Linked DNA regions of Homo sapiens. The protein of the gene in region 1 interacts with the protein of each later gene in a pairwise test. Each region holds a gene or a part of one and is shown in the gene's direction. Other genes may lie near its edges.

Region 1 (6,786 bases):
AGTATACAGTACATATATATGTAGCAATCCATTTACATATAACTAAGAATTGTGGATCATTCTAGTGGTGAGCTCATGTCACCATTCCTAAGGGAAAGGCAGTTGCAATATGCCACCTAAGGGTACAGGCAGCTTGTTCAAAATCTGACTACCAATGATTGAGGATGTGGATAAAGGTAAGGTAATAACGAAGGTAAATTTGAAAGGTTCCCTGACACCACCATTGTCCACATCATAGTATGAGTGATTCCTGCTTTCTTGTTTGGATGAAGACAATTTTAAGAATGGTAATCTGAGACACATCATGCTACAAACAGAAAGGTCTTCATAAATCTTTGGAGAACCCTGATGTTTCTATTAAGAACAAGAACATAACTCTCCTCCAGAAATCCTTCCCCAACCAATTTCACTGACTCTAATAACTATTTCTCACTTCCTCACTCTTTCTCTGTAAATATCAGATTACACTGATATTTTTGCATCTGTCAATATGTTATTTCATAGTTACTATCATAGAATTCACAAAGGTTTGGCCTTATTTCCTGGGTCACAATGCAAAACACAGAGTTTTCTTTACATATGATTACCTTTCTTCATACAGTAAATATCAGATTATTTTCCCCGTCTTTGTGTTGAAAATTGTATAACTTAGTTGTCTCACCAAATAAGCTGTCATATCCTATGCTTCCATGATCTATTTTCTGACTCCTGGTGGTAGAATTCTCTACTGTGTCAGAGATCTTGAAAGACTAGTCAGTATTCAAAATTTCTACTTATTCCTCTAATTTCATTCTGTGATCTCCTATCATCTGGCACCTGCCTCACCATTCTATTGATTCTCGTCACTTGAATCACTAAGGATATCTTATTAGCTAAATCTAATGACCTTTTGTTCACCCTCATCCTATGTAACCTCTGTGCATTATATGAAACTAATAACACTCTTTTTACCTTCCAAATTTCTCCTTAGGTCTAAAATATCTCCCTTTTTTGATTGTCTACTTCTCTGACTACTCCTACTGCTTGTTCTCCCTTATCCTATCCCTAAAGGTATCTGCTACCCTTTCCAAGACCTCGGGATTCCTTCCTCTGTTTTTTTGTCCTGCTTATTCTCTCCTTCCAACCTTCATCTCCAGCAATTTTATTGAAGCACAAGGTCTTAGCCACAAACTGAGCACTGAAAACACCCAAATTTATAATACATATCTCTAGTTTTGTCCTCTCACCTAACTTCCAGCCCAGTACAGCCATTCAACTATAATTCAATATAACTATCACAAAGGCATTTGTCAATCCAAAACTGCATTTATTATCTCCTCTCTATAGTCTATTTTTCCTCATATCTATTACGATTTGAGGCATCACTTGTCACAAAACCTAGTTTCTCAAGTCAAATGCCTCAAAATCATTTTCCGCTCCAACACCCATATTTATTTCTCATATATTAATACAATTGGTTAACAAGTCATGCTAACTGTATGTCAAAAATCTCTTGTTATCTGACATCTCATCGAGGTCCTGCCACAGTTCAAGCCCTAATCATGTTTTGTCTGCACTGTTGAAGGAACCTCTTAACAGGTTTCTCTGTCTTCACTTTCTCCCTCCTCCAGGCTGCTAAAAGAAACAATTTACTTTTAATTTCTTAAAAGTGTTTATAAGCGGAAGTGGGAGAATGGCAGTATAAAGAGACAACTAATCACAAACTGAAGTTCATGTTTAAAGTATTATAGAGGGAATAAAAGAGATAAGGTAAAAGATGTTCTGAACTTAGTAGACAAGAACACAAAGGAGTAAGGGGGACAACTATAAAATCACCAATGGTAGCACACAGCTGTAGAAAGGAGGAGATCCATGAAGGCAGGCCACGGTGCTGTCCTCAGCCCTCTACTCTTCTTGCTCCATATTCTGTCCCTGAGTTATTTCAACCGCTGCTGTAAATACAGCTTTCACCTCTCAATACTACATCTTCAGCTCTGATGTCTCTCCTAAGTTCTAGACTCATATATCAAACTGCCTACTAAGTATCTCCACCAGGATGCCCAACAGGTATTTTTTTTTTTTTTTTGAGACTGAATCTCACTCTGTTGCCCAGGCTGGAGTGCAGTGGCATGATCTCGGCTCACTGCAACCTCTGCCTCCCAGGTACAAGCTATTCTTGTGCCTCAGCCTCCCAAGTAGCTGGGACTACAGGCGTGCGCCATTACGCCCAGCTAATTTTTGTATTTTTAGTAGACACAGGATTTTGCCATGTTTGCTAGGCTGGTCTCCATCTACTGACCTCAGGTGATCCACCCACCACAGCCTCCCAAAGTGCTAGGATTACAGGTGTGAGCCACCACACATGGCCCCAACAGGTATTTTAATGTTAATATGTCTAAAGGTGAACTCATCCCAAAAAATTCTTCTTCATTCTCCAACTAGTCAATAACAGGGCTATCTACTTAGTCCCCTATACCAGAAACCTGGGCATTATCCTCAGCATTCCCTCATCCTTGTCCCTGACATCCCTATGCATTCTATCTACCAAATGGCTCTCTACACTCTTCTCTCCATCCCTATTTCCACTGCTTTAGTTTACTTCTTGAATTGCTTTAGCATCTCCCTAATGGGTCTTCCTGACTCCAGTCTCTCCCCCTTTCCTCACCATTCTCTTTTCTACATTATCTTCTGGATGCTCTTTCTGTAGAAGTCACTCTAGAATAAGCCAAAACATGAACCCTTTCCACTGATGGCTGATAAATAAAATATACAAGCTGAGAAGGAAAGAAATCACAAAACAGCATCTAAAAACAGCATTTAAATGGTGGGACTTTATGCCTCTGGGGTTTAACTACCTTCTTAGGTAATATTTTAATGCTTGATTTATTGTCTTTTTCCTCTCTAATTATCTGACATAGGACCCTTAGAGAAGAAATATTGTCTTTTTAAATGTAGTTCATAGAATAGAACATAATGCCCATATAATAAAAAATGAATGCTCTGATTTTTCAGAAGGGAAAATAACTTAAAACGCCAAAATCAGTGTATCCCTGTATGGCTTAGTCCCTTAGGTACATAAATGATGGTGGATAACATTGTGGAGAGAGTTAAATTAGAATGGTATCCTGGGGTGAGATTCTAATGTCAGGACAAGGAGTGTGCCACAAGGATCCATCAAATGATTTTAAGCTTAAGAGAAACATGATCATAGGAAAGATTAGGAAGTGATTAGGGATTATGAAGAAATTAAAGACAGGAAGATTATTTGAGAAGAAACATGGACATTCCCTAAGTGGGCATGGATGTCTTAGAAGTTTCTGAGGTCACAGCAACAAGATTTTGTCTCTTAGTTGACTTGTTTTTAAGGGTCGGTATGAAGGGTAGGTAACTTAAAAATTTGATTTTGAGGTTTCTGTATTGGACAACATAGGAATTTAGGAGGGGAATCATCTCCTGCATATATTAAAATAAGCAAGAGGCCATTAGTTTGAAGCTGTTTCCATACTTTGAGTTCCTATCTAACAAACCGCAAACTAACTTAGCATGTAAACAGACTGAAACTTAACATAAGCTGTATAAAAGACAGCCTAATTTCAGCCAAACACAACTAGCCAGGCTCCAGCTAATTACAGGCAGTCAAGTGACAAGACCATGTCCAAATAAGGCAAATGCCTTGCTGTAGCCAATCAGGTGATTTTTCTCTTTTGTGTCCAAACTCAGCCTATAAAAATTCACTTCTCATGTTGCTGGGAATAGCTCTCTGAAACTCTTCTGGTTCTGAGTACTGACAAATTCATGACTCGTTTTTCTTTTTTTTTTTTTTTGGTTGTTGTTTATGTGTAAACAAACTGTTAACGTTGTCTAACGTTTTTCTTTTAACAGGGAAAAGGGGGAGTCATATCATGAACATTCTGATTGTATGTGTCTGTAGGACATGTATGAAATGTGAATCTAGATTGGGAGTTTGACATCTACAGGCCAAATCATGCCAACTGCCTGGTTTTATAAATGAACTTTTATTAGAACATGGCCATGGTCATTTCTTCAGGTATTATTTATGGCTGCTTTTGTGCTACAAGTAGTTGGGATAATCTTTTGCCCACAAAGCCTCAAATGCCTGCTATCTTGCCCGTTTCAGAAAAAGGTCACTAACCTGTATACTAGGATTTAGGAGTCTGGAAAATGAACTGCAGAATTTTCATGGGTTGGGGGCTTTTTCGTGTTCTAGAACATACCCATTATTCCCCCTTCAACCTCTAGGGGGGTCCCTACTAGCCGTTGGCATGGGACAAACCATTGTCAAGAGGGAGGGATACATGGGACTTTTTTGACTTGATTATAAGGGCTTAATTTTCTTGGTTCTAAGTCTTTTCTGACCACTCCTGTTTCTTCCGACCTTTAAGGGCTCCCAACCATGTGACAGGTTCCCTTAAATCCCAATGGAGTGGCAGGGGCCTTCCTCACTCACTCCCTTCCACTCCTGGTATCTCTGGAAATTGGAACAGTCCCAGAGTAAAAGCCGACGTTGGCCCTGAGTCTTCCTTTCCCTGGAACCTTAGGAGGGAGAGAGATCTTCCTCTCTCTTCGGGCGTGTTAAGACAGCGGGGTTGGCCTGTACTTCCTCTGGCCCTGGCTGAAGAGGTGAGGCCTGGTGGGAGGTGTCCTAGGGTAGGACAAGCCGGTCAGGGGGTCATTAGGACGGTCTTGTCAGAGCGGGTAGGGCGGGGACAAGAGGGCGGGAGAAGATGGATGAGGGGAGGGGCTAAGGGGGAGGAAAGGAACCTATTGGCTGCTCCATCCACACAGGGCTAGTGAAACCGTTAAACCCCTAGGCGATCATGGCCTTGAGACCTGAGGACCCCAGTAGCGGGTTCCGGCATAGCAACGTGGTGGCCTTCATCAACGAGAAAATGGCCAGGCACACGAAAGGCCCCGAGTTCTATCTTGAGAATATATCCTTATCCTGGGAGAAGGTGGAAGACAAGCTGAGGGCCATACTGGAGGACAGCGAGGTGCCCAGTGAGGTCAAAGAGGCCTGCACCTGGGGCAGCCTGGCCTTGGGAGTGCGCTTTGCCCACAGGCAGGCACAGCTACAAAGGCACAGGGTGCGGTGGCTGCACGGCTTCGCCAAACTGCACAAATCAGCCGCACAGGCCTTGGCATCAGACCTGAAGAAGCTCAGGGAGCAGCAGGAGACGGAACGCAAGGAGGCGGCCTCCCGGCTAAGAATGGCCCAGACCAGCCTCGTGGAGGTGCAGAAAGAGAGAGACAAGGTGAGTTGGAAGCCGCTCCATGCAGTAAGATCCCTCAACTGGTCCCTGCCCAGTACCACTGCCCTGCCCCATTCCCACCCCTCTCCACCCTGCTCCATGGCTTCGCCCTGCCCCGCCCTTCCCACCTGGTAGCTCCGTCCTACCCTGCTTAGTGCTCCCGCCTTGCCCCCAGAACACACCTCAGCCCTGCCCACTTCTCTCCAGGAGCTGGTGTCTCCCCATGAGTGGGAGCAGGGGGCAGGGTGGCCAGGCCTGGCCACTGCCGGAGGGGTTTGCACAGAAGGAGCAGCTGAGGAGGAAGAAGAGGCGGCGGTGGCTGCTGCTGGTGCTGCTGGAGGAAAAGGAGCAGAAGAAGAGCAGAGGGATGTGGAGGTTGTGGCTGCCCCTGTGGAGGCCATGGCTCCCCCTGTGGAGGCTGGGGCTGCCCCCATGGAGACCCAGTTCCCCCACGTGGAGGCCAGGGCTGCCTCCATGGAGACCACAGAGAAGCTGGAGAGAATCCTCCTGCAGCTCCTTGGAGATGCTGATCAGGAAAAGTACACCTATTGGGGGCAGAAGGAGGGAGATCTCCGGTCGGTCGAAACAGCCACATCTTATTTCTCTGGAACCACGAACCCCTGGTCCAGAGCCTCATCAGAACCTCTTCCTGTCCAGCTCCCTGCCTCATACTCATACTCATACTCAAGCCCTTTTTCCTCCTTCTCAGACATACCCACTATATCCCCTCCACAAGCAACAGTCACAGCACCAGTTCCGCCTCAGCTGCCTTCCGACTGGGAGGCCTTTGATACTAGCCTGTGGTCTGATGGGGGGCCCCACAGAATAGACCATCAGGAGCACCCAAGAGACAGGAGATACTCCGAACCTCATCAGCAAAGACCTCCAGTATATCGCAGGCCAGGGGACTGGGACTGCCCTTGGTGTAACGCTGTGAATTTTTCACGGAGGGATACTTGCTTCGACTGTGGGAAGGGAATCTGGCTGCAAAAACCTCATTGAGTGCAGAAATGCAAAATAGAACCGAAGCATGTATATCTCGATGGCGAATTAATTTTCAGAGGGCAGGCTTGTGGTGGCGGGGGCCGGGGTGGTAGGGGAAGAAGGCTGGGAAGAGTGGGGGAAGGAGGTGAGACAATGGTACCTTTACGAATAACTTCAGAGATAGGGGTGGTGACTGGAGGAGGGGGAGGAAAGTAGGGGTTGTGAAAGAGGTGTAGAAGTGGGGTGGTGGCCAGGGGAGGTATAGATTGGGGTGGGGAGAGAGAGACACATGGAGACAGACATGTTTTGGTGACCCCCTTTGTATTCCAGAGCACTTGCACTCAATACCCCAGAAGTGCTGCAGCTTTTATTTGTGTATGTCTCGCTCGCTCTCTCCCTGCCCTAGTGTCTGGTAAAAGAGGCAACCATGTGTATAACACCCCACCCTCTACTCGCATCTAGGCCTTAGATGATTGGAGCAGGAGTGGATATTTGGCCCATCCAGAGCCAAATGGATTTTTCATGCTAGACACTCTGAACAGAGAGGCCGATT
Region 2 (2,908 bases), on another chromosome or scaffold:
ACTGCAACTTCCGCCTCCCAGGTTCAAGCAATTCTCCTGCCTCAGCCTCCCAAGTAGCTGGACTACAGCACCTGCCACCACACCCGGCTAATTTAGTGTATTTTTAGTAGAGATGGAGTTTCACCATGTTGGCCAGGCTGGTCTCGAACTCCTGACTTCAGCCAATCCACCCACCTTGGCCTCCCAATGTGCTGGGACCACAGGTGTGAGCCACCGTGCACAGCCACAAGGCCATGATTTTCTTTTAAAGGATGCTTGTTTTTGCAAAAGATTTTAGAACCAACTGTTACTAATGCTTTTGATGTTGATACTGTTGGGTGCGTGAGTCTGTACTGTTTGAAAAACGTTATGTCTTGATGAGTGACTAAGAGCACAGGCTTTAGAAATACACAGACTGGTTTCAAATATTGGGGCTGGTCCTCACCTGCTGATGTGGCCTTAGGTGAGTTTCTTACCCACCCTGAGCCTCCGTTCCCTCATATGTAAAATGGGCATAATGACCGGTGGCCTTTCAGGGTTGCCCACATGAAGGGAGATAGTAGGCATGAAATGTGCCTGGCATAGACAGGTACCTGGCAGTTGGTACATGTCTCAGTGGAGGGTATGTATATTTCAGAATTCTGTAACCTTTTAGTCTCAGTAAATCATGTTTTGAACACGAATAGATTCTGGCCACCACCAGCACCCCCCACCCCCAAAAAAAGGATATTGTTATATCTTTACAAAGACATAAATTTTTCTGCCAAATTTTTTTAGGCTCTTAGAGGAGGGGCCAGGGAGGTAGGATTTATGACAAGTTAAAAAAAGGCCTTTTTAGCAGGGTGTGGTGGCTCACACTTGTAACCCCAGCATTTTGGGAGACTGCAGCGGGTGGATCACTCAAGGCCAGGAGTTCGAGACCAGTCTGACCAGCATGGTGAAACCCCGTCTCTACTAAAAATACAAAAATTAGCCGGGTGTGATGGCATGCGCCTGTAATTCCAGCTACTTGGGAAGCTGAGGCAGGAGAATCACTTGAACCTGGGAGGCGGAGGCTACAGTAAGCCGAGATCTCGCCACTCTACTCCAGCCTGGGTGACAGAGCGAGACTCGGTCTCAAAAAAAAGGCCTTTGGTTTAACAGCCTTCTTCATTTTCACCATTAGAACACTTAACACTATAACATAACTAACCAGGAGTAAGAGTTGGGGCCGAGAGGAGAGTGCAGTCTGGACATTTGAGGTGCTTGCTCTAAAGTAGGTTATGGAGCTGAGCTGACTTCAGGAAAAGCCAACTGCTCCAGGTTCTCTCACTGGGGTTCAGAGAGTGGAGTGGCCTGCCAGAGCTCCAGGTAGCTGTGGATGCGGGGAGATGAACAGCCAGCAGAGCTAGGCAAACATGAAGATGTAAAACCAGGTTAAAATGGCAACTTTTCAGCCAAGGACATGATAGATGCATGTCGTGTCCCCAGGGCTGCACCCAGGAGAGGCCTGTGTCCTCCTGCATTGATGGGGCTGCATCTTCAGGCATTAGAAACTTGAAGGCCTTTCCTTGTTAGTTCCAAGTTGTACTGCTAGCACACAGAGCAGAGGCAGGGAGGGAGTGGCATTTACAGGCCGTCCTTGAACGGCTGAGTGGGAGCTGCCCGGGTGATGCTGTGAGGCAGGGCCTTCCTGTGCTCCCTGAACCTCCAGCGTGAACAAGGAGTGAATGCTGCAGAGCAGCTCCATGATGGGCCCAGGTAGCAAAGGGAGGAGCTCACAAGGCCTGTCTTGGTGATGTGGGCCTGGGGTATTTTAACTCTGGAAGTTTCTGTTTTGCTTTATCTAAATTGAAAGGATGGTTTTGCCTTTCAGCCTTTAGAAGAAGCCACACTCTCTGAATTAAAAACTGTCCTCAAGAGCTTCCTAAGTCAAGGCCAAGTATTGAAATTGGAGGCTAAGGTAGGTTTTAAATTATTTATGGTACGTTTTCTCGGGTTATTTTAAGCTTAAAATGGCTACAGAAAGTACTAGTGAAATATTAGATCTAACTCTATACTAATTTTTCTGTAGTTAAAATTTTGTATTTATTTTAAATTTAAATGATTATCTGACTGTGCAGTTTTACTTTTGCCTTTTTCTAGGTGTAATTATAACCTCTTACATTTGTGCAACACATTTAGCCTTTCAAAACACTTTTTTGTGTGTCCCATTTGATTAGCGCGTTTTCACATTTCCAGTCTTACTTCTTTTGTAGACTGATCCGTCAATCTTGGGTGGAATGATTGTGCGCATTGGCGAGAAATATGTTGACATGTCTGTCAAGACCAAGATTCAGAAGCTGGGCAGGGCTATGCGGGAGATTGTCTAAAAGTGTTGGTTTTCTGCCATCAGTGAAAATTCTTAAACTTGGAGCAACAATAAAAAGCTTCCAGAACAGATCATATTATGTTCACTGTCTTTTAAACTGGAATGTAGAAGGCTTTATTTTTATGTCCTTTTTTGGTATCCCCTGAGTATAAAGGCCAAAAAGCCCTTTTGGCCTAGAGAATTTGGTTTGAGTAGATTATGTTTAGGAATTAATTGGTTAGACACAGCACCTAACACATGGTCACTCAGCAAAGTCTATCTGGTCCTGCCTGCCAAAATCCCGTGTCTTTAAGGGTTTGTTCAGAGTTCCTGGTCCCTACTAGATCATCGGATCTGTGTTTGATCCATAGCCCTCCAGGGAGGCCTCTTGCCCTTGATCCTAACATGAACACACCTAGTTGTAGGCTGCTCTGTAGCTTTCAAGGCCATTTCATGTACATCTGAAGCTGCATGACAGCCTTGTCACACGGGTGGGAGAGACATCACCCCACTTTACAAATGAGGAAAGAGATTGAGGGGCCCTAGAGATGTGCTCAGAGTCACCTGTCTGGACAGCTGGTGTCAGGCCCTACAGCCCAT
Region 3 (5,815 bases), on another chromosome or scaffold:
ATTCATCCGATTTTTAAAAAATATATTATGAAACATTTGTTATGCAGAAAAGTATGGATAACATAACAAAGACCTTTGAACTCACCATTCAGTATAAGAAATAAAACATGACCCATCCAGTTGAAGTCCCCTCTATACCTACCCCATCCCCAGATAACTACTTTTTTAAATTTGATATCATTCCCATGCTCTTCTTATTTTACTATGGTTTTGTTTTGCATGTTTTAAAACTTCATATTAAATTATAATACATATTATATGCATTCATCTGTCGTTTTCTTTTTCCCCTTGACTTTGTAATCATGAGATTCATCTATGTGGTTATATATACACATACATATATCAAACATTTATATATCACATACATATATAATATATACATATCACAGTTTACATATTCATTACTAAATATTGCTAAATTGTTTTACAAAGGGGCTATACCAGTTTGAATACCCACTATCAATATATAAAAGAATTCTTGTTGCTTTGTATCTTTAACAAAACTTGGTAGTTTTTGCAGTCTGGTGGGTGAAATGGTACCTACCTCATTGAGGTTTTAGTTTGTATTTCTGGTTGTTAATGAGATTAAGCATGTTTATTTCATCAGATTTCAACTCTTTGAATAATCTGTTTATATCTTTTGAGTGTTATTCTATTGAGAGGTTTTGGTTTGGTTTGGTATTTCTCATTACCTTATAGGAATTCTTCATGTATTCTGAATGTTAAACCTTTCTCATTTCTGTGCACTGCAAGAATCTTTCCTCAGCGTGGCTTGTCTTTCTACTTTGCTTATGGTGAATTTTGGTGCACAAATATTTTAGGTTTTCACATAGTTACATTTTATCAGTCTTTCACTTTTGCTTTGTCTAGATCTTGTCTAAGAAATACTTCCCTACCTCAAGATCGTATTTTCCGGTCAGGCATGGTGGCTCACTCCTATAATCCCCGCACTTTGGGAGGCCAAGGCAGGTGGATCACCTGCAGTCAGGAGTTTGAGACCAGCCTGGCCAACATGGTGAAACCTCATCTCTACTAAAAATGCAAAAATTAGCTGAGTGTGGTGGCGGGCACCTGTAATCTCAGCTACTCGGGAGGCTGAGGCAGGAAAATCACATGAACCCAGGAGGTGGAGGTTGCAGTGAGCCAAAATCACCCCACTTGCACTCCAGTCTGGGCGACAGAGTGAGACTCCATCAAAAAATATATATATATATATTTTCCAGTATTTTCATCTAAAAGCTCCAAGTTTTGCATTTCACACTTAGTCCTTCAAATCTTTCTTGAGCTTAATATTTGTGTTTGATTTGGGGTAGTGATCCATTTTCTTCCATTTGGAAAACCAGCGGTCCCAGTACCCATTTATTGACTAGCCCACCTCTTCCTCACCAATCCCGCAAGGCCATTTCTGTCATCTGTCAAGGCTTGGGCTCTCTGCCCTGTTCCACTGGTCTTTTTGTCTACCCCGGGTGACAAACATGCTGTCTTAATTACTTTATTTAAAAAAATAAAAGGGTCTTTGGCATTCAGTAAAGCAAGTTCCTCCACCTCTCCACCTCATTCTTTCTCAAAATTATTTTGGCCATTTTGGGCACAACTTTAATCTTTCTCCTCTCCTTGATTTGCCCTAGCCTACTACAAGCAATCAAATGGCAAGACTTAAAGTAAGCAGAAGGGAGAAATCAAGCCAAAGCCAGCCCTGGGTAGTCCATAAGCTGAATATTTGGTTCCTAATAACTAAGACATTGCTGTGTAGTCAAGAGTATAGACAGCCTATATATTAATAAAAGTAGAGTATGTGTTTACAAAAAAAACAAAACTATTTTTTTAAATCTTTTCCAGGCTATAACAAGGGCCACATTTAAAAATAGAAACTGGAGCCCATCCTCTGGTCAGTACCAAGGTTCTTGCCTTTATTTTTAAAAATACTACTTTTAAATCTATTTTTTGCATACAGATAGTCACAGAGAGTTTTGTGAAATAGTGCTAAAACTGTTCACTTTTGCCTAGATCCCTCAGAACATCCAAACCAAAGGTCAGTCACTAGGAGACATCCCAGGAGCATGCTAATTCCATCACAGCAGGGCCTAAGAATGAGGTCATCTTTCTCTCATTCAAGGGAGACCTTAGTTTCCTGCTCTCAGCGACACTTCCATAGCCTCATGATAGCTGCTTGGTGTTCTACAGTGTCTCCAGATCCAGACCCTCTTATATGGACCGCAGGACAAAAGGACTCTGGCCACCCAGCAGGCCATGGGCATGCTGTCCACGTGAGTTGGCGTCCCTCACACTTTCTCTATCTCATTCCCTTTCCATTCAGAATCTCAAGAGAAAGCTGGTTCTAGAAGGTTCTGTGTAACCTTCTCTGGAATGTTTTGCTGACTTCCCATAACTTGCATAAAGGACAAGTTCCTTTGAAACCCGAGTTGTAAAAGATCTTCCTTGCCCAGGTATTTAAAAATAATTCATCCTTTAAGTCAGAAATATATGCTGGATGTTGTCTTCCTGCAGACCAGCCCCTGCAGGCTAAGGCACCTGCTGCAGGGGGAGGGCCCCGGGAATCCCTGTGGCCTCCTGCAGCCCTGCTTCCGGCTTCCCTCTGCCCTCGGATGCCCGTCAGGACTGGAGCCGGAAGGTTCACTGACTGACCTTAAAGGCTGGCCCCTACGTCCTTTCTCAGCCCGAGCAGAGGCCCAGCGCTCTGCCGTGGAGGGCCTACCTCACAGAGCCTGGTCCGCAGAGAGCAGCCCCAGGGCTGCCTGAGTCTGCTCAGGGAAACAGGGCCACAGCCCGGAGCAGACACAACCTGGCCAGCAGGGCGCCATCCCCTTTGAGGGCAGGGAAGGCGAGCCAGGGAGGCCTCCAGTGCAACCCTGACCATCCTCCTCACCCATGTCCTGCTCACCAAGCCAGCTAAGGGTTGAGGGCCTCAGCTCAGTGAGGATGGTCACAGGTGATTTTAAAAGATGGGAGGGGCCAGGCGAGGTGACTCATGCCTATAATCCCAGCACCTTGGGAGGCCGAGGCGGTGGATCACTTGAGGCCAGGAGTTTGAGACCAGACTGGCCAACATGGCAAAACTTCGTCTCTACTAAAAATACAAAAATTAGCTGGGCGTGGTGGCATGTGCCTGTAATCCTGGCTACTCGGGAGACTGAGGCATGAGAGTTGCTTGAACCTGGGAGGCGGAAGTTGCAGGGAGCCGAGATGGGGCCACTGCACTCCAGCCTGGGTGACAGAGTGAGACTCTGTCTGAAAAAAAAAAAATTAAAAAAATAAAAGATGGGAGGAAAACATCTCATGTTTTATGCTCTGTGCTACAATTCTCCTCTCATTTATAGCCCCTACCAAGTCTTCTCATAAATGGGTCTGGGCACCTGCTGGGCAGCAAAGGCTGGATGGGAACGGTGTGGGGGGCTGAGGGGCACCACACTCACCCCACCCTCTGCTTGTCTGCAGGGCCCCCAAGGTTGCTTCGAAGCCAAGGCAGGCATCAAAAGCCAAAGTGGCCTTCTGCACCAGCATCCCTCAGGACACCCTGCTGGGGAAGGCCCGGCCCGGCACAACAGCAGACTGAGGCCCCCACCCTGAAAAAGCCTAGGACATTCCTGGGCACTGTCATTTAGGGTGCTGTACAAATCACCTCCGCCTAGAAAATGGAATTCAACAGTCAGGATACAGATTTCCAAGGCCAACTGTTGGCCCCAACATGCAACAGTGAGACCATAAGCCTCCCGTGGGCCACATTTTGACAGTGGATGCCCTTCAGGGTGATATATGCTATAAAGCAGTTTTCTATCACCTAAGTGGTTTTTCTTGCCAACAAGAATTTTTACCCATCAGCACTACTGTGGCTGAAAAACTTCTCTTCAACAGTTCAGTGCGCCCTGTGCAGGAGTCAGCCCGGCATCTGCTTGTACACACAGCTCCTTGCATAGGTGTGGAGTTAGATCTGGACAGTGAACTTCAGGAAGTCCTTTCTTATAGGAGGCTAATAGGGATTGAGAATAACATGAGAAGAAAACGCTAATAAAGGGAAACCTGAACACGCTGCTGTCAGCATGTGTTTTCAAAGTGCAGCCTGCCTCAGAGTTCTTCGGAGCCTGAAAAGGGGTTTGAGAAAGAGCCCAGTAGGAGGGGCAGGAGGCCGACACACCTGACTTGGCCTGGGGCCCAGGAGGCAGGTGTAAGGGAGTGAAAAGAAAGGCTAGCCGGAGGCTGCGGGGGGAAGACCGCAGACTCCCTGCTGCTTCGCATCCCTCCTGTGGCCTCCACTGCAGGCAGGACAAACCTGGATGCCACCTGGAGCTGCTTCCTGAGTTGGCACACTATCGTGTACACAGCAGTCTTCAGCCCCCTGGAAGGAGGCCATAGTCGTGTGAGGATGGCAAAGTCGAACAGGAAGCTTTGAGTGCCTTCCTCCACGATGTCAACGAGGAGATCCAGTGCCAGATCGAGGTGGATGGAACACCCAGGGGTAGGGGTGCAGGTGTGGGCAGTGATGTCCCTTCCCCTCCCTCCCCTGGTCCCACAGACTGTGGCCATGAGGCTGCAGGCTGGTGCTATGACAGCAGATTGCAGCACAGGGCCCTCCCCTCCAGCCCCCAGTGGGACATCAAAACCACCCTGGGGCCATTTGTGCAGGGCACCACCTCCAGTATTGATGGGGAAAATAAACTCAGTAGAGCCACGACAGGGTGGAGAGAAGCAGGGACCATTGTCTTCCTCAGGAGCGTGACAGCTGACCCCACAGACCATGCTTGCTGGTACACACTGGTCCCAGACCCAGGCCTGTCGGACATCAGCAGTGTGCTAAAAACGTGTAAGATGTCACTACTCACCGTGTGTCCTATCTAGTTGACATGGGTGGAGTCAGCTAAGGGGTGAATGTTCATATGCTCCCAATTCACGTTGAAGCCCTAATCCCCAAAGGGATGGTATTGGGGGTGGGGTCTTGGAGAGGTGATTAGGTTATGAGGGTGGAGCCCTGATGAATGGGATTAGTGCTTTATAAGGAGAGACACCAGAGAGATGATCTCTCTCTCCACCATGTGAGGACACAGTGAGAAGACAGCCGTCTGCAGGCCCGGAAGAGAGCCCTCACCAGGAAATGAAACTGTTGGCACCTTGAGACTTCCCAGCTTCCAGAACTGTAAGAAATAAATGTTTGTTGTTTAAGCCTTTCAGGCTACGGCTTTCTGTTACAGCAGCCTGAACTGAGAGTCCATGCCGAGTTTTTGAAATAAATGTGAATTCTGATGTTACTTCTTCCTTTCTGTACTTCTTGAAGCGTAGCTTGGAATCACAAAAACTAAAACACATTTTTAAAATTTAGCGCCCCCACCCCACCCCACCCCAGGAAGCAATGAATTTAGGAATGTTCCCTCCAATGTCTCCCATCTGTTAATTCTGTTGACTTCAACGAGAGGAAGACTATAGCTACTTGTGTTTTTCTATTTTTGGTAAAGGGCTACAAGGTTACAAACGGGTAAAGATATCTAGCTATTCCTTTGTCTCAAACTACCTCAGTTTTTTCAAGCCCCTAAGAAATGGCCATGCCTTAGGGTTAACCCTCCAATTTGCACTTATAAGGTAACCAACTGTCCTGGTATGCCCAGGACAGTCCTGGTTTTAGCACTCAAAGTACCACATCCCAAGAAACCTCTCCATCCCAAATGGGATGGTTGGTGGTGTCCTACTGCCACTAGTCATTCAGGCTGTGATGATGACATTTTTACCACAAATTGTCCAGTGTATATTTGATTACAAGCCAATTGGCTTATGCTCTGTCTGCCAGGCTTTCTAGCTCTGTGCTCCC
Region 4 (7,391 bases), on another chromosome or scaffold:
CTAGAACATACATCCCTTCACAGGGGATGCAAGACTGCTAGCTTCCCCCATTTTTAAAAAATTATTTTTTAATTGACAAGTGAAACTTGTATACATTGATGGTGTACAACATATTTTGATATAGGTATACAATGTAGAATGGCTAAATCAAGCTAATTAACATATGCATCACCTCACATATTTGTGTATGTGTGTTGTGAGAAGCCAAATTTATTAACTTTTTCATTTATAGCTAGTGATTTCTGTGTTCTGCCTAAGAAATATTTGCCTACCTCAAGGTTGCAAAGATTATCTCTAATGTCTTCTTCCAGGAGTTCCTTGGTAAATTCTAAGTAATTTTATGGCATGCTGTAAAGGTCAAGTTCCTTTTTCTTTCAAAAAAAAATTTTTTTTTTCTTTCTAAAAATCTGGGATTTTGGAAGGAGAAAGAATCTGGATGCAGCAAAGGGAAGCACTTGCCTTACCGCCTGGCTGTGACATACATGGAGCATTGTATGTCATGCAATGATATACACTGAGATGGGCAAAACTTTCGGTTAAAGCAAAAAGAAACATCTGGGAATACAGTGGTGCTTGCTGAATCCAGATGATTCCATGCTACATGGTGAAAGGGCTCAAGCGGGCAGCAAGGGTGACCACTGGACCAAATTAAGGGCTATAAGGAGCAGTGATGTGCAGGGTAGGTTACTCACAGGGGTTATTATATTATCTGAAATTTACATTAAAATACTTGGCAATTAAAGTGTGATATAGTTATGCGTAAATTAGTTTTTACAATCTAAATAGTTAAGATTTGATGTGTTGTAATATACGGCACATTAGCATAAGGGATGTCAGATATTTTTCACTGGTGAAATGAGGAGTACTTAATATATGCAGATGGGCTTGAGAACTGTGCTGATACTTCCCACCCTTCATGGACAGAGTATAAGAATTAGTGAACATTGGATATGACTAGGTGACCTCTTTGAATCTCAATTTCTTTCTCTGTAAAATAGGAAAAATAATGTCTATCTTCTAAGGGATATTGAGAGGAATGATAAGACACGCCCAACTCTAGGCTTGGCATTTAATGACTGTCCCACCCAGGTTAATTTGTTCCTTTTCCTTCTACCACTTTTTTTACTGTAGTACTTCGAGCTCCTGATTTTATGTCACTTACCACATTCTCTTTTGAGTTCCCATCTCAACTCTCTTGCTAGACACAGTCTTGAAGCTTAACTAATGCTGGCCTCCCTCTGAAGGTCCCATGGCAAAGCTCATCAAATCTTAGTGTACCCAATCACCTGAGATGCTTTTTAAAAATGCAGATTACAAAGCCTTACCTCAAAAGACTGATTCTGTATGTCTGTCTGGGTGTGGTCCAGGAATGTGCAGTATCATCGAGCACCTTTGGCTATGATGAATTAGGTGGTCAAGAACCACTCAGAGACACGTGGGATGTGAGAAAAACTTGTTTCAGAAATCCTACAATTACATTTTCTTCAAATTCGAGTTGAGACCCAAACAAAGACAGCTGACCCAGTTCTCCAGTCCCATGTGGAGGCTGGACTCAGCTGACCCAGGCCTGAAGCAGGCCCATCACCCTTGTTACATGTTTCCGCCCTTCTGGGTGACATAAAAATATCATTTTTGCTGGTCCGGCAGCAATCTCCCCTTTTCTGGTAACCCCCTGGATTTTCCCTACTCTTAGTGCAAAGCTTCAAGCAAGGCTAATCCCTTTCCCCACCATGAAAGTGAAGGTCAGCCTCTCAGACATTTATAAGAACAAGGAAGAGGAACACTCTTCCTGTAGAGATACTAAACTAGTAAGAACCTAAGTCTGGAGCTGCCTACTCCACTCTTACATAGAGTGCCTACTTGAGAATGAAACTAAGAGAGATGGTGCCCTTTGACATCATTAGGCCCCTGGGGTTCTTGCTAATCTGAGTTACTAATTCTCTTTTTGCTTTACGTCAGTTTGAGCTAGAATTTCTCCTTGCAACTGAAAATTCTGACTAACACACAGAGCCTCTACATTTCTCTGCACAAATGAACGCTTCCTCTCTGGGCAGTCCCAAATAATTCCCCTGTACCTCACTCTCCTCAAAGAACGTCACCTCCTTGCCACAAATGCAGGGAACCTGCTCCTTGGGACCAGGTGCAGCCCACTTTTCTTTCTTCCTTGCAGGGAAAAAAAAGGCCTTTTCCTTTGAGGCTTATGTTACGGAGCTCACTGTTCATTACTACTGTCTTCATTACTTAATTCATTTAAGACTGACACCTGTTTTATAATCTCTCCTTCCACCCTAGCTCTGCCATCATTCCAGATGGATCTCATCATTCATTTAATAGCCTATAATCATAGTTCATGTAGCATTCACTACACACCAGGCACGGTTCTAAGCATTTTACATATATTTTAGTTCACTCAACCCTTATAATAGCACAAGCTATTATTACGCCCACTTCTCACATAAGGAAACTGAGGCACAAAAAGGCTATTTAGACTTGCCTAGAGTTACCCAGTCATGAAGTGGTAGAGTAGGGATGAGGACAACGGAGTCAAATTGCAGAGTCCAGACTGGCCTCCCAGTTCCTTATAACTGTACCATCCTCCACATCTACTCTGCATTGGTGCTGTGGAGGTGGGAGAGAGGGAGTACCTCCTTCACTGAGTCACTGGACATTTGGAAGGTCTTTGGAGAGAAGTCAGCTGAGGATGGCCTGCATTGCCCCTTCCTGGAACTCAATGATTTGTTGTTATCACCCATGCAAATTCACCAACAAACAGATAAAAGTCAGGAAGCTGGGATGCAGCTGAACTGAAAACCCAGCAGCAGAAAAGCAGGTTATAGATTCTGCTCTGGGTGCTCCATACAGCTCCTTCCTCTCTGCCCCAATAACCTCCCTCTCTTTGGGAACATTGCTGCATTCAGGGCAGTCTGTCTTCCCTCCCTATGGGCTGTCTTTAGAATGTGTCCCTTGCCTATATCCATATTCATGCTCCGTGCTCCTCAGCCCCCTAGAAACTTTGCACAATAGATTCAAAACCTCTGGTTTCCTCCCTTCCTCTGTCTGAAAGAGTGAAAGAAGGAAGCCAGGGATTTCAGGGGGCAGCCAGGCAGCAGTATCACCACCCCTAGGCAATCACACCTAGTTGCAGCTTCATCGGGAACAGCTCAGCTCTGAAAACACAGACCTGGGACTCTCCCTCCCAGCCTTCTAGCTCTCGTTCCTGTGAGCAGCTTTTCAACCTCCACTTCCAGCCGCTGACAGGCCCTCCTGGCTCCACAAGGCCAGCTAACATACCCACCTTCCACAATCCCCAGCCCTGCCAGACATAACCTGCAACAGGCATTCCTGGATCAATGCAAACTCCGACTTCTGTTCCAGGAGTCTGCCTCTGTTAGAAGAATCTCACACAAGTGTGCGTGCTGTGCCATTGTAAATGCTGTATAAGGTGGCCAGGCCCAATCAGTCCCTGCAAGACACCGAACAGTAAGAACTATCTATGGAGTGTTTACTATGTGCCAAGCACCGTCCTTTGCAAGCACTATTAACCCTCAAAATACCACCACCGTGAGATTGAGACCATCATGATTCCCGTTCTACAGAAGGAAACACTGAGACTTCAGGAGGTCAGGACCTTTCCAGGGTCACAACTGCGTAACTAAGTTGCAGAGCTCAACCCAGTGGCACTTCCATCTCACACGCAGCTGTCTGATGGTCAAGAGCCCAACCAGTCCCCCGGTCGTTTCTACCGCACTAAACCGCTGTGTCAAGCTGGAGCAGCGGGCTCAGCAGTGAAAATGAAAGAACAGAAGGAGGTTACAGAGAAGAGAACGGTCACGGTAAATTCCGGAGAGGAGGCAAGGACGTACACACCGAGATACTTCCCGGTCACCGTTACTCAGCACTTTGTGGGGTTCACGTGGCTGGGGGGGCCGGGGCGTGGCGGCCCTTTTCGAGGAATCCAGCCCTGCCTGGGCGGTCCCCATCTCGAGCGTGGGCGTGTTCGATTCAGGCCCGGCGGACGCATCCCCAGGTGACCCGGGAGGGACCTTGTGTCTCTGGGGGTGACTGTCCGTCTCCCCGCCTCCCACCGTCACGCGCAGTGCTGATCCCCACTTCCAGCTGGAGTGCGAGCTGGGCTTGGGGTTACAGGAGCCGAAGCCCTGGAGCTCCGCCCCACGCTTGCGCCAGCCCCGCCCCGATCCCGGCTCGCAGGCTCCAGGGGCGGGGCGTGGCCGGGGCGCAGCGACGGGCGCGGAGGTCCGGCCGGGCGCGCGCGCCCCCGCCACACGCACGCCGGGCGTGCCAGTTTATAAAGGGAGAGAGCAAGCAGCGAGTCTTGAAGCTCTGTTTGGTGCTTTGGATCCATTTCCATCGGTCCTTACAGCCGCTCGTCAGACTCCAGCAGCCAAGATGGTGAAGCAGATCGAGAGCAAGGTACGCGCTACCGGGGAAGGCCAGGGTGCCGGCGCCGCGCGCGGCCTCTGTAACTGGGGAAGGCGGTGGCGGGAGGTGGGGAAGGCGGTGGCGGGAGGTGCGGAGGCCGCCCCTCCGCATCGCCAGGGGAAAGGGACGCGGCGTCTCGGCCTGGGACTGCGGGAAGCAGCGGCCTGGGCGCGCCCGAGGCGGTGGAGCCTGCCCTGGAGGAAGGGAGGAGAAGGACGAGGGTCCCCTGGAGGGCGGAGTGGCGGTGCCCAGCGTTTCTCGCACCCTGTTCCTCGGGGGATTGCACGCACGCGGGGAGCGTCCGGGGGATGTGAGAGCGCAGACAGCGTGAGGAGTCCCCACGCTGCGCCTCCTGCACCCTCCCGTCCGGGCAGCCCCGACTGGAGGAAGATGAGGGAATGGAAGGGGTCCGCCCTTGGCCCCCCATCTGTATCCAGATTCAGGCCCCAGGCAAGGATAGGGAGGGCCCTTGCAGAAGGCACGGGTCGGTGGCCGCCGCTGCCTTTCCGTATGTGAAGTGATCCACCCGCAGCGGGGGTAGTGATCTCCCTTTGGGAGCGGGTCTAGGCCGGAGACCCCCGCCTGCCTCCACCCATGCCCGACCCCAAAGGTGACGCGTGCTGTATCCGCACTAAGGGGGCGGATTGCGGCTGGAGACCCCCTGGCACGTGCAGGTCTGTCCAGGAGGCCCGAGGGCCCCAGGTGACCGCGAGGAAGTGAGGTCCGGGCCGCGCCCACGGGACTCCTGTGGCGCAGGGCGCGTTTCCGGCAGCAGTGGCTTTGGAATGACTGAGTCCCCAAGGTTGGGCCCGGGGGCCTCGGCTGCCCTGCCCGTCCATGATTCACCCTCAGTCGGTGGGTTTTGCTGGAGCCAGGGTTCCTCCTGGGAGCAGCCGCGCCCTGCTGCCTGCTCGCCGACCTATCGGTATCCCGATCGTTGTTTTGTCCTCTTAAAAATGCCCAAGGCGAAACAGCCTTCCCATGTTTGAAAGTTATTGCAAGCCTAAAACCTTGTAGACTGGGAAACCCAGAGCCTAACGCGCAGTGTCTAGTCCAATGTAGCCACTCCAGAAATATTTGTTAAATGCAGCGTCAGAAAAGTGAGTGGAGGAAATTGATACTGCTCGAACGGTAGAAGACCCCTCGCCAGCGCCTACCCTGCGATTACCCCTCCCTACCTGCGGGAAGCAGAGGAGGGCGGGTCCTCGCCCGCCTCGGGTGCCCTGACCTGTTTGGTGCCGGGTGGGCTTCGGAAACAGAAGTGTGTCTGCAATGTGTCCCCGATCCTTTTGTTCCTTTGATTATTATTGACTCTCAGTGTTTTTTCCTCATATGTTGATTGCCACTGTCATCTTTTATCTTCCTCTCAATCAGTTTTTTCTTAGTGGGATTCTCATTTTAGCAGCCCTCATGTGTTGAAAAGATCCTTAGTAGTGAATTGTCTTTCATATACTTTTTTTCCAAGCACCTATTGTGTGACAAATTATTAATCCATTCCTGGGGAAGGGAGTGGGGCTGGGATTCTGTTCTCCAGGGTCTGGCAACCTCAGTATAACCCAACTGCTAAGAACCCCCTCCACTGAGCCAGAAGACCTTTGAGTGGTCTATGTTAGTTGTCCCAAAATCCAGACACTACAAACAAAGTTGATTAGGATTTCTGGAGCACACAGTTTAGTCCTCCCAGTTGTCAGAGCATGTCAGAGCACCTTCCTCCTCTACCAGTGACAAAGGTGTACAAGGGTGACAGGAACTTTAAAAAAAGCACTACAGCCTGGGGCCCAAAGGCCCTGATAATCAATTAATCCTCAAAATAACAATCCAAAGTCATTGATCGAAAGTTACACTAATTTGATTGTTATTTGTCTGTTAGTTTGTTTTTCGAGATGGAGTTTTGCCCTTGTTGCCCTGGCTGGAGTACAGTGGCGCGATCTCGGCCCACTGCAACCTCCACCTCCTGAGTTCAAGCGATTCTCTTGCCTCAGCCTCCTGCACAGCTGGGATTACAGGCATGCGCTGCCAAAATGCCCAGTAATTTTGTATTTTTAGTAGAGATGGGGTTTCACCATGTTGGTCAGGTTTGTCTCGAACTCCTGACTTCAGGTGATCCACCAACCTCAGGCTCCCAAAGTGCTAGGATTACAGGCGTGAACCACCACGCCCAGCCTGTTATTTGTAAATGTTGAATACATGTTACATTTTCATCCTAATGGGCTAAATTTGCACCATTTGCCATTCAGAACAATTCTGTTTCTGAGGTACTCTGTTGGTGCTTTAGGGCCAACTGGGATCTATTTCAGAGAGGAATGGAATAATTGACTGTAAATGTGATGAGGAAGAAATAAACACTTTTAAAAAAAATGACACCTACCATTTATTGAACTCCCATCTACAAGGCACTTGGCTAAGTACTTCAGAAACCACTCACACTTATTACCCTCAGAGTAGGTATGTTGAGGCAACGAGATCTTAGACTCTTGCTCCTATTTACCCCAACTACACTGTTCTGCTTCCCCCAGATTATTGGTGTCAGTGATGGAGACATTTATTAATCCTGTTAGTTTCTGGGAGCTAGAAATTGTGATTTCTTCTTAGTAATACAATCTTGAATAATTTTCAAGCTGATACCCGTTTAGAAGTATCAGAAGAGAATTTGTACATGAAGCCTGCACATACGTGGGGTGTAACTCATGTTCAGTTAGGCTAAAAGTTATTGTTGCGTGCCTCTTTTCAGAATTTTAGGTACTTGTGCTTAAATTTGATTCAGAACTGTTTTGGAAAAGCCTTGAGTATGTTTGAAATACCTTCCCTCTTGAAAGTAATCTCAAGTTTTTAATAAGGGTTAATCATGTTAAAAAAACAAAAATGTCTATTCAACCAGACATTGGCATTTCTTGACCTTTTTTCCTGTCTTACCTGGATCTTGCAATAAAGGATGCCTGGTTTAACTTTCT

What was found.
Region 2: the proteins of TEX13A (region 1) and ATP5PO interact in binary tests that used the Homo sapiens proteins (3 or more experiments, as listed by UniProt).
Region 3: the proteins of TEX13A (region 1) and TTC23 interact in binary tests that used the Homo sapiens proteins (3 or more experiments, as listed by UniProt).
Region 4: the proteins of TEX13A (region 1) and TXN interact in binary tests that used the Homo sapiens proteins (3 or more experiments, as listed by UniProt).

What each region holds. Positions count from the first base shown.
Region 1 is NC_000023.11:105,218,429-105,225,214, reverse strand, and holds TEX13A (testis-expressed protein 13A), read left to right. Parts: upstream 1-4,520; 5' UTR 4,521-4,620; intron 4,621-4,785; 5' UTR 4,786-4,817; coding exon 4,818-5,252; intron 5,253-5,456; coding exon 5,457-6,251; 3' UTR 6,252-6,286; downstream 6,287-6,786. UniProt on the Homo sapiens protein: Binds to ssRNA containing the consensus sequence 5'-AGGUAA-3'. Plays a role in transcriptional repression. Required for rapid sperm motility and timely degradation of mRNA via its interaction with CNOT1.
Region 2 is NC_000021.9:33,902,948-33,905,855, reverse strand, and holds the end of ATP5PO (ATP synthase peripheral stalk subunit OSCP, mitochondrial precursor), read left to right. Parts: intron 1-1,834; coding exon 1,835-1,921; intron 1,922-2,216; coding exon 2,217-2,330; 3' UTR 2,331-2,403; downstream 2,404-2,908. UniProt on the Homo sapiens protein: Subunit OSCP, of the mitochondrial membrane ATP synthase complex (F(1)F(0) ATP synthase or Complex V) that produces ATP from ADP in the presence of a proton gradient across the membrane which is generated by electron transport complexes of the respiratory chain.
Region 3 is NC_000015.10:99,135,769-99,141,583, reverse strand, and holds the end of TTC23 (tetratricopeptide repeat protein 23), read left to right. Parts: exon of another isoform or gene 1-1,839; coding exon of another isoform or gene 1,840-1,888; exon of another isoform or gene 1,889-2,007; coding exon of another isoform or gene 2,008-2,184; coding exon 2,185-2,267; exon of another isoform or gene 2,268-2,317; coding exon of another isoform or gene 2,318-2,356; exon of another isoform or gene 2,357-3,456; coding exon 3,457-3,574; coding exon of another isoform or gene 3,575-3,623; 3' UTR 3,624-4,997; coding exon of another isoform or gene 4,998-5,147; 3' UTR 5,148-5,261; downstream 5,262-5,815. UniProt on the Homo sapiens protein: Participates positively in the ciliary Hedgehog (Hh) signaling.
Region 4 is NC_000009.12:110,253,452-110,260,842, reverse strand, and holds the start of TXN (thioredoxin), read left to right. Parts: upstream 1-4,335; 5' UTR 4,336-4,407; coding exon 4,408-4,431; intron 4,432-7,391. UniProt on the Homo sapiens protein: Participates in various redox reactions through the reversible oxidation of its active center dithiol to a disulfide and catalyzes dithiol-disulfide exchange reactions.